Linked DNA regions of Homo sapiens: region 2 is linked to region 1. Evidence: fine-mapped expression QTL. A gene starts in region 1. The other region holds a variant in brackets. All regions are shown on one strand. Distances are between the middles of the regions.

Region 1 (9,914 bases):
GAGCTCAGGCAATCCACCTGCTCGGCCTCCCAAAGTGCTGGATTACAGGCATGAGCCACTGCGTCCAGCCTAAAAACTGATTAAAACTCCAAAGAATACATACTCTATGATTCCATTTATATAAAATGCATACCCCTCTATACTGACAAAAAGCACATTAGAGGTGGGACAGAACGGGTCTTGTAGGTGATATATACGTTCTATATCTTGATTGTGATCAGTATACGTAAGTATAAAAACTTATCGGCCGGCCGGGAGCAGTGGCTCACGCCTGTAATCCTAGCATTTTGGAAGGCCGAGGCAGGCGGATCACAAGGTCAGGAGATCAAGACCATGGTGAAACCCTGTCTCTACTAAAAATACAAAAAATTAGCCGGGTGTGGTGGCGGGTGCCTGTAGTCCCAGCTACTTGGGAGGCTGAGGCAGGAGAATGGCGTGAACCTGGGAGGTGGAGCTTGCAGTGAGTCAAGATTGCACTACTGCACTCCAGCCTGGGCAACAGAGTGAGACTCCGTCTCAAAAAAAAAAAAAAAACACTTATCAAATGGTACACTTTAAATGGATGGAGTTCATTTACTAAAGTATTCCTCTGTGGATCTGATAAGAAAAAAAAAACAAAAACTCAAAGCAATCAGACATTTAACATATATGTAATATGTAATTAGGTATAAGCAGAGAAGTTATGCAAATAATAGCAACTTTTAGAGGAATAAAACAAAATTCTAGTTTCCCTCTTTCGTCTGATTCTCAGTATCTACATGTATTGTCAATTCTTCCTCCTAGATATTATGTACAGATAAAGATCTCATTTCATAACTCTCCCTCACCCCATGTTATCCAATCCCTCCTATCCATTCCTAACAACCTCTGGGAGGCCAGGGAGGATAATTTTACCATTTAAACTTCCACTAACCCTGAATGTCCTAGATGCAATGAATTCTGAACCACAATCACTCCATATTAGAGAAACACAGGGCAGAGTAGCCTATTCATTGTATCTTCATGTTTCTGTTCTTTCTTCCTGTCCATTTTATTAGAGCAGGAAGAGTACCTTATATATCTCTATGCTTTAGAGCCTATCTAGCAGGTTTGCAAGTGCTGAGTGAATTCCTTCCCTTTTGATTATTGGAATGCTAACCAACCCAGGTTAAAGATGAAGCTATTAAGGTCTTTCAAGATCCAACTTAAATGCTAGTTTCTCCTTGAAGCTGTTCGTAATGCCCTGACTGGAACCTCTCAAAATTTTCCTACCACTGCTAGAACAGGTCATATCCTTCTTTATCCAAGTGTTCAGGCTTTAAAGTAAGACCTGAGATCAAATCCACATCCTGCCATATACCTTCTTTTTTTTTTTTTTTTTTTTTTGAGACGGAGTCTCACTCTGTCACCAGGCTGGAGTGCGGTGGCACGATCTCAGCTCACTGCAATCTCCACCTCCCAGGCGATTCCCCTGCCTCAGCCTCCTGAGTAGCTGGAACTACAGGCGTGCGCCAACAGGCCCAGCTAGTATCTGTATTTTTAGTAGAGAGGGGGTTTCACCATGTTGGCCAGGATGGTCTCAATCTCTTGACATTGTGATCCGCCTGCCTCAGCCTCCCAAAGTGCTGGGATTACAGGCGTGAGCCACCGCACCCAGTCTACCTTCTGTCTTAAGCAAATCACTAAAGCTCTCTAACAATGACATCGACCACAGTACAGCCAATACTCACCATGTGCCAGACACTCTTCTGAGGGCTTTATATGAATTAACTCATTTAATCTTCATAGCGACCCTACGTTTGCACAACATAGTGAATGCAACTAATGTCAGTGAAGTATACACGTAAAAACGGTTGAAATGGAATATTTTATGTTGCATATCTTTTTACAACAATAAAAGTAAACATAGGCACAGACAGGTTAAGTAATCTGCTCAAAGTCACACAGCCAGTAAGTAGCAGAGCTACTTCAAACCTCTGAAATCTAGCTTTAGAGTCCATATTCTTAACTTCTATACTGTATTGCTTCTCACAAAGTCTCATTTTCTTCATGTTTAATAAGAACAACGTTACCTACCTTACAGGTGTATAAAGTGCTTCACACATGGCAAGAGCTCAAAAAAGTTATTGTTTTGCCTTAGTCCTTTTCTACACATTTAGGCTCCTTGAAGGCCGAGTCTTTCTTAACTATCTTTGCATTTCTCTCATTGTACCTAGCATAGAGTACAATAAATATCAGACTCAAAATAAATACTTTCCTCAGAGAAATATCTGTGGCATCTAGAAATCCAAATATGGATTAAAAAAAGACAACACTATACAAGTAAAAATTTGAAGTGTTGTCATAAAGACATAAAGTAACGTTTGCGCAATTTTTATAGAATGCTCAATTCTGACTGACAGAATTGACACTGAGCTAGCTAAGGCCTGAAGGGGAGTAAGGAAAGGTTGTGTATCTACTTCCCTAAGTGGCAGTTATAAGTACAAAAAATGCAAGTCCAAGGAAAAAAAATCCTTAATGGTGACATCAGGATAATCATAACAGTAAAATACTGTTTAAAACAAAAAAAAAGTCCGATGCAGCAAAACTAGGCTCTACAGACACACTAGGCGCAAAAGATAAAACAGAACAACCTTTTCTAAGGACTAAATAATTACAACAATATTCTCAGTACTATTTGGCATACGATCTAGAAGATCAAAGTAAAGTGTAAGGACAAAATCAGGAGACCTACATTTCCAGATCCCCGTGGCACTGATATTGGACTGTAAAACCATAGATTCCGAGGGCTGCCGCCTTAGTGCTAAGCGGACGCAAGGGCAAGTAGTGTAACTGTTCCAACTCGGAGCCCAGAGTGGTCCAAGTCAAAGTCGGTGCAGCCCGCTACGGTTCAGCTCTACTAAAGGGTTGCAAGGAGCTGAAAGCAGCAAAACGGTTTTTGTGGGGCCTCCAATCGCCTTCCTGAGCGCCCCAGAAACCGGCTAAACCTCGTCTCTCCCGAAACCACCTGGAGTCGCTCCGACTGGAGAAATCAAGAGTCCGCCGCCTTAAAATGACTAAAACAATAAGCAACCCCAACTCCCACTTCAAGCGCGTACGGTTTCCATTTGCTCCCCTGCCTCAGTGGGAGGAATGGAACGTGAAGACACCGCTTCCCGCCCCGCCCCCGGTAGGCCCTGAATCAGTTCGGGGTTAAAAATAATGAGGCGGACAAGGCGGCCTCTGGCCACAGTCTCCAAAGAAAGCGAATGACCCGGGTATCAGACCAGCTCAGACCCTCACACCAGAACCCTGGGGTCCGCCGGGCCCCGCAGCAGCAGCCTCGAAGGGACAAGAAGAGCCAGGAGAAAAAGAGGACGGACAAGCTCACCTGCCGCTTGTTCATCCGCCGCACATCGTCCAAAAAGTCTAGAGACAGCATGGCGGGGACGGCGAGCAGGACACCGGCAGGGGAAAGGGCGCGATGACCAGCGGGCGGAACTACTGGAGCTCGGGTCGGGCTCACACTGGACAGGACCCCGCAGTGCTTGCACTTCCGCTTCCGGGGCGGGAGCTGGCACGGTCGGGCACGGTCCCCGCCCCCCGCGCCCCTTCGCTGCGGAGAGCTGACAGAGAGACTCACGACCTTGCTAGTCCAGTCTCAGGGCTTGGCCTCGCCGTGGGAGGGTTCTCACGCTCTGGCTCTCGCCTGCCAAAAACCGACTGGACGCCACTTCCCGCGCTCGGCCCCGCGGCCCTTCACCGAGGCGGCGACCCAGGCTTAGTTGGGGAGGCTGCTCTGCCACCTTCGGAAGGCGGGCCTCTGTGCCCGCCCGGCCAATCGCGAGCAACCTCTCCGGTGTGGGCGGGTAGAAGCGGTTCCGCGTCCCGGCTTGGGTATGGGTGTGGCAGTGGATGTGTCGTCTGACCGTAGGTTCTCTGGTCGAGCAAGTCTCCTGCGCTATGGGAAGCTGAGGAGGTGCTTTCTTTCTTTCTGTCTCTGTCTCTCTTTCTTTACGTCTCTGTCTCTGTTGAGGTGCTTGCTTGCTTGCTTGCTTACTTTCTGTCTGTCTGTCTCTTTCTCTTTTTCTTTCTCTTTCTCTCTTTCCTTTCTTTCTCACTGTGTCGCCCAGGCTGGAGTGCAGTGGCGCAATCTCAGCTCACTGCAACCTCCGCCTCGCGGGTTCAGGCGATTCTCCTGCCTCAGGCTCCCAAGTAGCTGGGACTACAGGCGCGCGCCACCAAACCTGGCTAATTTTTGTATTTTTAGTAGAGACAGGGTTTCACTATGTTGGCCAGGCTGGTCTCGAACTCTTGAGCTCAGGTGATCCGCCCGCCTTGGCGTCCCAAAGTGCTGGGATTACAGTCGTGAGCCACCGCGCCCGGCCATCGAGGTGCTTTCAATAAGTGCTTTTCGCGTAAGGTTGGACCGTGTGAGAGACCTTCCGAGCACTGCCTGAGCCTGCCAGGAGTTTACAGTCCAATTGGAGAGAAAACAGCCCGGGAGAATTAGAAAACATCCAAATGGTGCAACAGCGTGATGAGACCACCAGTGGTGTGGGTCGTTAGGAAGTGGCTTCCTTTCTGACCTTGACTTTGCTGACAGGATTTGACATGGTCTCCTTGAATTCTACCTCCTGGTTTTCTTAACTTGGACACCTTGAAGTGACTATCTTTTCGCTACCTTTTGCTTTGACTGGCCAAAGCTCCTAATACGCACTTCAGTCAACAAAGACTAAAGCTGGATTACTTGGTATCATTTCTCTCTCTTTTTTTTTTTTTTTTTTTTTTTTCAAAATAATCCTTCTCTCCCATTAGGGAAAGATGAATGAAGGATATACTGGAACTCTTTGTAGTATCCTCGAAATTCTTTAAATGGAAAGTCATTCCAAAATAAAAACTTGAATTTATTGGAGGATGGCTGTAATAAAAAAGACAAATAATAATAAGTTTAGGGGAAGATGTGAAGAAATTGGAACCCTCATATACTGCTGGTGGGAATGTAAAATGGTGCAGCCACTTTGGGAAATAGCTGCAGTTGCTCAAAAGGTTAAAGATGTGCCGTCTGCAGTGGCTCATGCCTGTAATCCCAGCACTTTGGGAGGCTGAGGCAGGCAGATCACCTGAGGTCAGGAGTTCCAGACTAGCCTGGCCAACATGGTGAAAACCCGTCTTTACTAAAGATACAAAAATTAGGCGGGTGTGGTGGTGGGCACCTGTAATCTCAGCTACTGGGGAGGCTGAGGCAGGAGAATCGCTTGAACCCAGGAGGCAGAGTTTGCGGTGAGCCGAGATCGTGCCACTGCACTCCAACCTGGGCGACAAAGTGAGACCCTATCTCAAAACACACAAACAAAAAAAGGTTAAAGATGGAATCACCATATTAACCAGCAATTCCACTGCTAGGTATATACCCAAGAAAATTGAAAACGTTTGTCCACACAAAAACTTGTACATGAATGTTCACAGCAGCATTATTCATAATAGCTAAAAAGTGGAAATAACTGAAATGTTTATCAACTAATGAAGGGATAAATAAATGTGGTATATTGGAATAATGTACTAATAATTCCGCTGGTACAATGGAATATTAATCTGGCAACAAAAGGAAATACTACAACATGAATGACCCTTGAAACAGATTTAGTGAAAGGATCCAGTCACAAAAGACAAAGCATTGCATGATTCCATTTAGGTGAAATATCTAGAATAGACAAATCCACAGAGATGGAAATCAGTGGTTGCCTAGGGCTGGGAGAGTTGGGGAAAATGGGGAGTGGCTGCTAATGGGTATGGAGTTTCTTTTAGGGGATGCTAGTTCTACAACTATGTGAATATACTCAAAACCATTAAATTGTACACTTTACACTGGTGAATTGTATGGTATGTGTATTATATCACAATAAAGCTATTATGAGAAAGAAAAAGAAACCACTGGTGTCTGGCTCACTGTTAAATTCCTAGTGGTGAACACATAGCCTAGCACATGTTATACCCAATAAATACTTGTTGAATTTAAAAGTGTGTGTGTGTGTGTGTGTGTATTTTTGTCACCTCCAAAAACTGCTGCCTCTAGGCACCCCACACTTATTGAGTTGAAAAAAAATTCCTAATTTATCCAATTTAGGAAGACTTGTGGAAGAAAATACATGTGAACTCCATGAGGACAGGGACATTGTCTTGTCCACCCCTTTATCTCCAGCTTCCATAAGAGTACCAGACATGTAGCAGACACTCAATAAGTATTTGTTAATAAATGTTAAATATGGGTTCTAGTCTAAATTCTCGCTAGTAGAACCCTTGGCCTATGCCTATTAATGTTGAATTCAAATCTAAAAGTGAGCGCCAGCAACTATTTAAATGAGTATCAATCTTGTAATGTGTAGAAAAGAGCCCTAAGAGAGGCGTAAAGTCCTGTGGAGTTTCAGATGTGGCAAAAGTCAGTTCAGTTGGGGAGGCTTGTGGGGAGCTTAAAAAGGGTGTCAGGCCAGGCACGGTGGCTCACGCCTGTAATCCCAGCACTTTGAGAAGCCAAGGGGGAAAGATCCCTTTGGCCCAGGAGTTCAAGACCAGCCTGGACAACAAAGTGAGACCTCTGCTCTACTAAAACTAAAAATTAGGCCAGGCACGGTGGCTCATGTCTGTAATCCCAGCACTTTGGGAGGCCGAGGCAGATGGATCACCTGAGGTCGAGTTTGAGACCAGCCTGGCCAACATGGTGAAACCCCGTCTCTACTAAAAATACAAAACTTAGCCAGGCATGGTGGCAGGTGCCTGTAGTCCCAGCTACTCGGAGGCTGAGGCAGGAAAATCGCTTGATCCCGGGGGGCAGAGGTTGCAGTGAGCCAAGATCACACCATTGCATTCCAGCCTGAGCAATGGAGTGAGACTCTGTCTTAAAAAAAAAAAGAATGCATGAGAAAGGAACGGGACCAGGGGAGAGTGATATAAACTAGGAGGATCTGCAAAGGCTTAATGAGGTTTCTTATACTGCTCGGTGTCTCTTATGAAAATAATTCAGATATTTAGGACAGGTGATCCCAGACTTGATATAAAGCCTAAGGAATTCAATTTTCCAAATGTGGGACTCTGACATGCTATTTTCTCTGCCGACTGGGATGGCAATCTTTCTGACACATAAGTCTTTTGGGCCCTGTCAATCACAGTGTTATGTCTGGCATTTTCCTTTACAGAGAGCCTGCTGGCCCCCCTGAAGGAAGCATCTTAGTATAGAAGTTAAGTTAGACCCACTTGGCTTTGAATCACAGATCAATTGCCAGCTGTTTGATCTTGGACCAATTAGTTAACTCTTTTTCCAAAAAAATTTATTTAATTTAATGTTTCTACAGACAGAGTCTCACTCTGTCACCCAGGCTGGAGTGCAGTGATGTGATCACCCTTCACTGAAGCCTAGACCACTGAAGCCTAGATTGCTCAAGCAATCCTCCCACTCAGCCTCCCAAGTAGCTGGGACTGCAGGCGCATGCCACCATGCCCAACTCAGTTAGCAATTTTTTAATCCCTAGTTTTCTGGTGTGTAAAGTAGGAATAGAAAAGAATTTATGTCATTTGAGGATTTAACAAAATAGTACATGTAAATAAGGCTGTTGGGGGCTGGGCATGGTGGCTGACGCCTGTAATCCCAATACTTTGAGAGGCCAAGGTGGGCAGATTACTCGAGCCCAGGAGTTCGAGACCAACCTGGGCAACATAGTGGAAGCCTCATCTCTACAGAAAATTTTAAAAATTAGCCAGGTGTGGGGACACATGCCTGTAGTTCCAGCTACTCGGGAGGCTGAGTCAGGAGGATCGATTGAGTCCTGAAAGTTGATCCCTTAGTGAGCCATAATTGTGCTACTGCACTCCAGTCTTGGCGACAAAGAGAGACTCTATCTCAAAAAATAAATAAAATAAATAAATAAATAAATAAAGCTGTTGTCACAATGGATGACAAATGGTAAGTGGACAAAGAATTTAATAATTATTCAAAACAAGAAGTGGGTTCAAACTGATACACAAATTCTAGGCTAGGAAGGTCTGTCATTATGGTTGAGCCCTGGTTAACCACTTCTGTACAAATCAAGGGTCTCTACCAGCAGAAGCAAAGTAGACGTCATGTGGGTTTTTTTGTTGTTGTTATTGTTGCCCAGGCTGGAGTGGAGTGCAATGGTGTAATCTCGGCTCACCGCAACTTCTGCCTCCTGGGCTCAAGTGATTCTCCTGCCTCAGCCTCCCAAGTAGCTGGAATTACAGGCATGCGCAACCACGCCTGGCTATTTATTTATTTATTTATTTATTTTTTATTTTTAGTAGAGACAGGGTTTCGGCATGTTAGTCAGGCTGGTCTCGAACTCCCAACATCAGGTGATCTGCCCCCCTCGGCCTCCCAAAGTGCTGGAATTACAAGCATGAGCCACCGCACCCGGCCTGACTTCATGTTTTTAAAACTCTATTAAAAATAATTATAATCTTACCAGTTTCTCCTTCACCTTCTCAATGTAGGAAGTGGTGGGTAGAAGCAGAAGGTCCTCTATGACCCTGCCAGAAAAGGAAGTGGCCCAGGCATATCACAGCAAGCTGGTGCATAGGCCACACTGGAGATGTGGCTCTTCCCTGGTGCCATCTCCCACAAGGATCTATCTCAGTTTGCTGGGGGCTGCCTGAGGTCAGGTCAGGTGGATGCAGAGATGGGAACTTTCTGCCTACCAACCCAGTGGCTATGGACATCAGAGACCAAGGTTTTAAAAGATGTAGCAGCTCTGTATAGGATGGGATGACAGAAATGTCATTCTCAAAAATCAAAGGCACCTTCTGTGCAGAGAGATTACTGGAGTCACCCAAGTCTCCCTGGAAGATTTTTGGAAAGCTCTCTTTAAAAAGTCCCAGACAGCTGCAGGGACAGCTGTAAGAGGGAAGCACCAGCCTTCTGGGTTGGTATGTGCGTATATGTGATGGGGGTTGGGGAGGACCCATCAATTTCCTGCTTGGCTATACTGCTTTAGCTGAAGAAGAAAGGGGCCTTGATGTTTGTTTTGTGAGTCCTTAGAGAGGAGAGATCCCTGTTGTGAATGTGGATGTCGTGTGGGTAGAGGATCAAGAGTGGGGACACCCTTAGCCTCTTCCCTCTAACTGGGCCTGCACCTCCTCCCTCTTGGAAAAGTTGCCTTTTGAGCTCTTGGATCTCATAGTTAATGACAGGGAATTGGCTCTTGATATCCCTCTTGATAGGTTAAGGGATCCTATAGGAATCTGTTGAGGCAGTTAATCACCACTGGAAATGTGGCTTGTGTAAATCTGGATATGGATATCCAGAATACAATCACATTCATTAGCAATCATTTATATATACATTCAAGTACTTTAAAATATTTACCTAAAGTCTCCTAAGAGCCTCTCTTCAAGGTACTCACGCTGAATCTGTGTGATTTGGCTACTGCCTCCTCTCCTTTTCTTTTAGTCACCCAGGCTGGAGGGCAGTGGCATGATCTCAGCTCACTGCAACCTCCCCCTCCCAGGTTCAAGCGATTCTTGTGCCTCAGCCTCCCGAGTGGCTGGGATTACAGATGTGCACCACCATACCTAGCTAATTTTTGTATTTTTAGTAGAGATAGGGTTTCACCATGTTGGTAAGGCTGGTCTCAAACCCCTGACCTCAGGTGATCCACCTGTCTTGGCCTCTCAGAGTGCTGGGGATTACAGGCGTGAGCCACTGCTCCCAGCAGGCTACTGCCTCTTTCATCAACTTGATATCTGACGTTCCTTGCCAACTTGTTACCCTATAGTCCAGACATACTCAACCATCTATACTCCAGCATATGTCATAGGAATTAAAGAAGTGATCTCTGGAGCCAAACTGCTCTAACCCTTACTGTGTGACTCTAGATGAGTTACTTTACCTCTATATGCCTCCATTTCTTCATCTGTAAACAGATATTTTAGCACCCAGGGTTTTTTAA
Region 2 (8,000 bases), 29 kb before region 1:
GGGTCATGCCTGTAATCTCTGCACTTTGGGAGGCAGAGGTGGGTGAATCATTTGAGGTCCGGAGTTCAAGACCAGTCTGGCCAACATGGTGAAACCCTGCCTCTACTAAAAATACAAAAATTAGCTGGGCGTGGTGGCAGGCGCCTGTAGTCCCAGCTACTTGGGAGGCTGAGGCAGGAGAATTGCTTGAACCCAGAAGGCAGAGGTTGCAGTGAGCCAAACTCGCACCATGAACTCCAGCCTGGGCGAAAGAGCGAGACTCCGTCTCAAAAGAAAAAACAAAAAACAAAAAAAACCCAAATGGTAATCCTGACCAGATATTTCAGTCTCCCCAAAAGAAAAAAAGAAAATTGAAAATTTCTGAATATTAACAGGGTCTGTTATCTACACAGGCCTGCAAGTTGAAGGTATCTCAAGAGTCTGAAATAAATCACCAAAAACCCCAGATTACAAGTACCATATTTAAAATCATCAGAATTCTGTACAAAATTATTTTAAAAATTTAAGGATTTTCCAATTAATATATTCTCTGTCTATGAATCTGCCCAGAAGCAGTTTTAAACTTAAGTCTATGACTCATTCAATTTCTTTTTCTTTTCTTTTTTCTTTTTTTGAGATACAGTCTCACTCTGTTGCCCAGGATAGAATAAAGTGGCATGATCTCGGCTCACTGCAGCCTCAACCTCCTGGGCTCAAGTGATCCTCCTACCTCAGCCTCTTGAGCAGCTGGGACTACAAGTGCACACCACCGTGCCTGACTCATTTTTTTTTTTTTTTTTTATTTGTAGAGACAGGGTTTCACCATCTGGTCTAGACGCCCAGGCTGGTCTAGAGCTCCTGCGCTCAAGCACTCCACCCGCCTCAGCCTCCCAAAGGGCTGGGATTACAGGCATGAGTCACCACACCCAGCCAAACTCACTCAATTTCAAAGGATCACAAATTAAAATGGAGAAATTTTCCTCCAGCTTAAACAAGGCCTGAGCTTAATTTGATTCTCTCTGATATATTTAGGGGAAAGTTGGTTCAGCTTTGTTCACAACAGGCATTGCTGAGAATGAACAACACAAATCCACTTTCAGAATCTGGAAAACACTATCCATGCTGAATAAACCTCTGTAATTCCAAAATAAATTTCTTTTTTTTTTTTTTTTTTTTTTTGAGATGGAGTCTCACTCTGTCATTCAGGCTGGAATGCAGTGGCGTGATCTCAGCTCACTGCAACCTTAGCCTCCCAGGTTCAAGTGATTCTCCTGCCTTAGCCTCCTGAGTAGCTGGAGTTACAGGTGCCCACCACCACGCCTGGCTAATTTTTATACTTCTAGTAGAGATGGGTTTTGCCATGTTGGCAAGGCTGGTCTTGAACTCCTGAGCTCAGGTGATCTGCCCGCCTCAGCCTCCCAAAGTGCTGAGATTACAGGCATGAGCCACTGCTCCCGGCCCCAAACAATTTCTAAAAATTTAAGTTATTCCTTCCCAGTCAATAATATAATGTCACTTTAAATTATAGTATTTCCACATACATACTGATATCTGATTTTATTAAAAAAAAATAAGCAGTCATATCTTTATTTCACCAATGAAGAAAGAACTCTTCTAAACTAGAATGTTTATAGGAATTTCAAAAAGCAATGGTTGACAGTTTCCTCTTCTTTCAAGAACTGAAATCCACCAGGTGCAATGGCTCATGCCTGTAATCCCAGCACTTTGGGAGGCCAAGGCAGGCGGATCACTTGAGGCCAGGGGTTCGAGACTAGCCTAGCCAACAAGGTGAAACCCTGTCTCTACTAAAAATACAAAAATTAGCTGGGCATGGTGGCACATGCCTGTAATCCCAGCTACTCAGAAGGCTGAGGCATGAGAATCACTTGAGCCTGGGAGGTGGAGGTTGCAGTGAGCCGAGATAGCGCCACTGCATTCCAGCCTGGGTAACAGAGGGAAACTGTCTCAAAAAACAAACAAAAAAAGAACCGAAATCATGCCTACTCTTTCACTTCTCGTCTGTGTGTCATACAGGATGCCTCCCTTTTCTTTCATTTCTTTCTTTTTTCTTTTTTGAGACAGGGTCTCACTCGGTCGCCCAGGCTGGAGTGCAGTGGCACAAACACGACTCACTGCAGCCTCAAACTCCTGGGCTCACACAATCCTCCCACCTCAGTCCTCCAATTAGCTGGGACTACAGGCACATGCCACTACGCCCAGCTAATTATTTATTTATTTATTTATTTTTTGAGATGGAGTCTGGCTCTGTCGCCCAGGCTGGAGTGCAGTGCTGCAATCTTGGCTCACTGCAACCTCCACCTCCCAGGTTCATGCAATTCGCCTGCCTCAGCCTCCCAAGTAGCTGGGATTACAGGCGCCCACCACCACACCTGGCTAATTTTTATATTTTAGTAGAGACAGGGTTTCACGATGTTAGCCAGGCTGGTCTCGAACTCCTGACCTCAGGTGATCCACCCACCTCGGCCTCCCAAAGTGCTGGGATTACAGGCGTGAGCTACCATGCCTGGCCTTTTTTGGTTTTGTTTTGTTTTAATAGAGAAGGAGTCTCACCATGTTGCCCAGGCTGACCTCAAACTCCTGAGCTCAAGCCATTCTCTCACCTTGGCCTCCCAAAGTACTGGGATTGTAGGCGTGAGCCACTGTGCCCAACCAGAAGATTCTATTTAGGATCTATCTTTATGTCATAGTTTTTTGGAATTATATACAGAGTCACTGACAGGTTGGGAAGTAAAAGGGAACAAAGAAAAACCTCTGGAAAAACCTTCAGGGAAAGAAATGAACTAATAAATAATTATTTACAGTTTTCAAAATGTTCACTAAACTTTCCAGCATTCATAAAAATGGACTGGAAGAAGGCCTAGAGGTTCCTCACTGTTTTACAATCTTTAGGCTATCAAAACTAAATACCACAAACACTTAAACAAAAGCACTTAGAAACAAAGATGCTATACTTTGCACATACTTTTCATGAATCTTCAAGACTCGGTGAACTATAGGAATCTCTCTTCCTTCTATCCTAAAAACAACAATTTCTCCCACTCGTATGGGATCTTCAACTCGATTTGTTAGAAAGAGAAGATCTCCTCTATGAAATGCAGGTTCCATGCTGCCACTGGAAGGGAAAGAAGAATATAACAGCAAAAAGAAAGTATGAGATTAAATGTACTTTCAAAATTAGATATTCAACAAAATAAAAAATATCACTTTGGGAGTATACTCAATACCCTAACAACTATATCAACAGAAATGTGTATTGTTCTCAAAATATGGTTTCCTCAGACTAAAAAGTTACGCCAAAGGATTTTTTTTTAGTTATTAACCTTCACTAACTAGTTCCATTTCAAGTATCACTAGTCAAAGAAGCTTAAATCTTGAAAAGGTCAGTGTTACTAATTCCTTAACCTTTTAAAATTTCAAATGACAAACAGAATATAAAAGAATGAACTTTAAAACAATGCCCTTATTCTCACTTCATCTGAAAACACTAAACATATTCAGATATGCAAATGAGAACTGGATCATCTTCCTCTGCCATTTATAAAGATAACAGCCAAGATGACCTTATATGTTCAACTCATTTAGAAGGAAAAATGGCTCATCAAGTCAAGGAACAGCCAGCTACAGAGATAAAGCTTGTGTTATCAATTTACTTATTTTAAAAAGAGAAAAAAAGAAAACCAAGGAATAAGCAGAGATTTTTGCCTAAGAATTTCCGAAGCCAGGAAAAGATTCAATTCCATGGTAACAAGTAAGACTAACTTCTACAGAGTATCTTCTTACCTCTTACCTCTTCCATCCTACGCCAAGTGCTGAAAAGGTCCTAAGATATTTGCACTAATTTATGAACCCCTTTTTATCTATAAAGAAGTAGCCCATCAGTCTTTTTCAGAAACTCAAGCTCCGGTTTTCTATAACAACAGCTTAAGTAAGAATAGAAAGACAAGAAATAAAGTTCAACGCAGGAATAAGTACAAACTCCAAACACTTTTGTTTAAAGACTCTCTTCCCTCTATGTAAAGGGATATGGCAGTGGGTCTCAAATTTTGCTGCACATTGGAATGACCTGAGGGACTTTTAAAAAATCTCAGCCAGGTGCGGTGGCTCACACCTGTAATTCCAGCACTTCGGGAGGCCGAGGTGGGCAGGTGACCTGAGGTCAGGAGTTCGTGACCAGCCTGATCAACACAGTGAAACCCAGTCTCAACTAAAAATACAAAAATTAGGTGAGCATGGTGGCGCACGCCTGTAATCCCAGCTACTCAGGAGGCTGACGCAGAAGAATCACTTGAACCCAGGAGGTGGAGGTTGAATGGGCTGAGATTGCGCCATTGCACTCCAGCCTGGGCAATACAGTGAGACTCTGTCT[CAA/C]AAAAAAAAAAAAAAGAAGAAGAAGAAAAGAAAAAAAAGAAAAGAAAAGAAACTGGGGGCCAGGCACGATGGTTCAAGCCTATCATCCCAGCACTTGGGAGGTTGAGGGGGGAGGATCACTTGAGATCAGGAGTTCAAGACTCAGTCTCTGTAAAAAAAAAATTAGCCAAGTGTGATGGCACACTCCAGTCTGGGCGATGGAGGGAGGCCCTGTGTTAAATGTTCTTATCACAAAAAAATAGAAAGGGAAGAAACTTTTGAAAGTGATGAATATATTCACTTGCTTGATTGTGATGATGGTTTCACAGGAATATACTTACCTGCAAATTGATCAAGTTGTATACATTAAATATGTACAGCTTTTTGTATGTCAATCATATCTCGATAATTTGGTTAAAAAAGAGTAATCTAAGTACTATTACTTAGGTTCTAGATAATGTTAATGCACTATTATTTAGATTCTAGATAATATTAATAATTCCATTTATTTTAAATATGCACTCCATTATCTCCAGAAAAGATCTGGGCTTACAAAATTAAGCCCAAAATATGACAAAACTGTAATGTTTCTTTTCTTTCTTTTTTTTTTTTTTTTTGAGACAAAATTTCAATTGTCACCCAGGCTGGAGTGCAATGGAGCGATCTCCGCTCACTGCAATCTCCGCCTCCTAGGTTCAAGCAATTCTCCTGCCTCAGCCTCCTGAGTAGCTGGGACTACAGGCGCCTGCCACCACGCCCAGCTAATTTTTGTATTTTTAGTAGAGATGGGGTTTCAACATGCTGGCCAGGCTGGTCTCGAACTCCTAGCCTCAAGTGATCTGCCCGCCTTGGCCTTCCAAAGTGCTGGGATTACAGGTGTGAGCCACCACACCCAGCCTATAATGTTTCAGTCAAACAACCAAGTGGTAATTCTCTAAAAATGAGTTACTAAATTAGGTTTTAAAATCACTAAGAGTGGTTGCGCATGGTGGCTCATGCTTGTAATCCCAGCATGTTGGGAGGCCAAGGTGGGAGGATCCTTGAACCCAGGAGTTCAAGACCAGACTGGGCAACACAGTGAGATCCTATCTGCTACGGTTTGGCTGTGTCCCCACCCAAATCTCATCTTGAATTCCCACGTGTTTTGGGAGGGACCCAGCAGGAGGTAACTGAATCATGGGGCAGGTTTTTCCTGTGCTGTTCTAGTAACAGTGAATAAGTCTCACGAGATCTGATGGTTTTAAAAAGGGGAGTTCCCCTGCAAAAGCTCTCTTCTCTTGTCTGCCGCCATGTGAGACCTGCCTTTCACCTTCTGCCATGATTGTGGGGCCTCCCCAGTCACGTGGAACTGTAAGTCCAGTAAACCTCTTTCTTTCGTAAATTGCCCAGTCTTGGGTACGTCTTTATCAGCAGCATGAAAATGGACTAATACACCGTCTCTACAAAAAAATTAAAAAATTAACCAGGCATGGTGGGGCAGGCCTGCAGTCCCACCTGCTCAGGAGGCTAAAATGGAAGGATCCCTTGAGACCGGTAGGTGGAGTCTGCAGTGAGTTATGACGGCGCCACTGCACTCTATCCTGGGTAACAGAGCGAGACCCCATCTTTAAAAAAAATATTCACTAAGAGTATGAGTGCAAAGATAGGGAAGGAAGCAGAGTGGAGAAAAAAAATTCAGTACTATTTGTCACCATAAGAGATGGTATTAATGCCTTCAAAATTCCTGGAGTCTAGTTTAGAAGTGATATTTAAAGGTCAGCAGGAAACTTGGAAATAATTAGTGATGATTCTATCCTGACATTGAGAACATGCTACAGAAAAACTCTTAATTTGTGGAAGTACTATAACATCTAATGAACTAACAACTAAATATCAGGCCTGGTGTATCAAAATGAGGAATATAAAAAGACAGAAGAATTTCAGGAAAATAAAGTACAACGAGACACTTTATTAAGGGATGTGACAAAAACAAACCTTAACATGGTAACTTTTTTGTAGAAAGGTCATGAGCCCTTTGGAGTTCTGAATGGAAATGCCTAACAAAGTAAGAATTTCTTTTCTCTCTTTTTTTTTTTTTTTTTGGAGACAGGGTCTCGCTCTGTCACCCAGGCTGAAGTGCAGTGGTGCAATCACAACTCACTGCAGGCCTCAACCTCTAGGGCTTAGGTGATCCTCCCACCTCAGCCTCCCGAGTAGCTGAGACTACAGGTCCATGCCACCACACCCGCTAATTTTTGTATTTTTTGTGGAGACAGGGTTTCACCACGTTGCCCAAGCTAGTCTCAAATTCCATAGCTCAAGTAATCCACCGGCCTCAGCATCCCAAATTGGTGGGATTACAGGCATAAGCCACCGTGCCCAGCCTGAGAATTTCTTACAACTGATAAGTAGTGACTAATTTTCTTCCAGGCCCTTTTCTGGAAAAGAGTAGTTTCTAAGAGAATGATATGCCAGTTATTTCATATCTCAATTTTTCTCCCAAGTAATGCCATGCAATTCCATGCCTTGAAAGGAAAAACTGTTACCTGAGCACCACTACAATCGGACTTTCACTTCCAGTTATTACCATTAACCCCTTCCAGATCATTAGTGCCGATGAGACAATCATTCCAAAATTTAGGACTTGATAATAGAGCTGCAAGAACAAAACAGAAGAGATCAGATCCACCATTATCCCCACTTCGGAAAGCAACTGAAAGCAGTAACAATTTGAAAGTTTCAAGCAGTACTATTAGGACAACTACAGTTCTGAGACATTCTTTAATACATTATAATAATTATGCCATCAGCAGATCAAAACAGGCCCCCCTTCTTTCACCCAAAGCACCCTGCTCCATTTTGTTTGGTAAAACATCAGTTACATTTATATAACACCATATTATTTTAAGAACATTTCACACAAGTTATTTCATTTGGGCTCCATAATCATTCAGCTTAAATTTATCACTCATGCTACTTACCAGCCAAGAGTAATCTGTCTCTGCTTCTGAACTCCTCTATTACTTTTTCTTTTTCTTTTTTTTTTTTTTTTTGAGATGGAGCCTCGCTCTTGCTCAGTCACCCAGGCTGGAGTACAGTGGTGCCATCTCAGCTCACTGCAACCTCTGTCTCCTGGGTTCAAGAAATTCTCCTGCCTCAGCCTCCCGAGTCGCTGGGACTACAGGCATGCGTCATCACGCCCAGCTAATTTTTTTGAATTTTTAGTAGAAACTGGGTTTCACCATGTTGATCAGGCTGGTCTCGAACTCTTGACCTCAAATGATCTGCCCACCTCCACCTCCTAAAGGGCTGGGATTACAGGCGTGAGTCACCACACCCGGCCCTCTATTACTTTTCTACTATACTTATCCCTTGATAATCATGGGAATAGTTAATGACATTTAACTCTACCTTCTCATTTTACAGTTAAGGAAACTGTCTCGAAAAGAGGAGACTTCACCAAGTCCTAAGCTTATCAGTCACATAGTCAAGACTTGAAGGTCAGCCTTCTTACTAAATTTCCAGTACTCCAACAAACTCTAAAATTCTGTGACTTGAATAAACAGATAAAACACCAGACGGCATTTCAATTTCAAATAAAGAAAATTCAGAACACGTGGAAAAAGGCAAAAAATATTACAAAATCAGATAAGATAAATAATGTGAGCTAACTG

Alleles and levels. Alleles are on the strand shown, and positions count from the first base shown. SD is a standard deviation of normalised expression in the study named.
As copies of C replace CAA in region 2, the expression in monocytes after Pam3CSK4 of the gene that starts at base 3,464 in region 1 goes up (large effect, 0.88 SD a copy in Quach 2016).

What was found. PIP is the estimated chance that this variant, and not a neighbour inherited with it, causes the effect. A credible set is the group of variants that fine-mapping cannot tell apart.
Region 2: its variant is the best candidate, but not a certain one, in a credible set for the expression of SEC11A in monocytes after Pam3CSK4 (Quach 2016, PIP 0.87).

Annotation. Positions count from the first base shown.
Region 1 is chr15:84,712,676-84,722,589 of GRCh38, forward strand. SEC11A (SEC11 homolog A, signal peptidase complex subunit) reads right to left here and starts at 3,464. Exons shown (of 6, transcript NM_014300.4): 1 at 3,350-3,464. The coding sequence starts at 3,400. RefSeq lists enhancers at 3,117-3,682, 3,138-3,207, 3,683-4,248, 3,878-3,997, 4,018-4,127 and 1 more.
Region 2 is chr15:84,684,663-84,692,662 of GRCh38, forward strand. SEC11A (SEC11 homolog A, signal peptidase complex subunit) reads right to left here. Exons shown (of 6, transcript NM_014300.4): 2 at 6,873-6,982; 3 at 2,963-3,112. Among named protein-coding and RNA genes, the nearest start is that of SEC11A, 27 kb to the right of the region's middle. RefSeq lists an enhancer at 1,826-2,325. The variant CAA/C (reference allele first, on the strand shown) is at 4,367.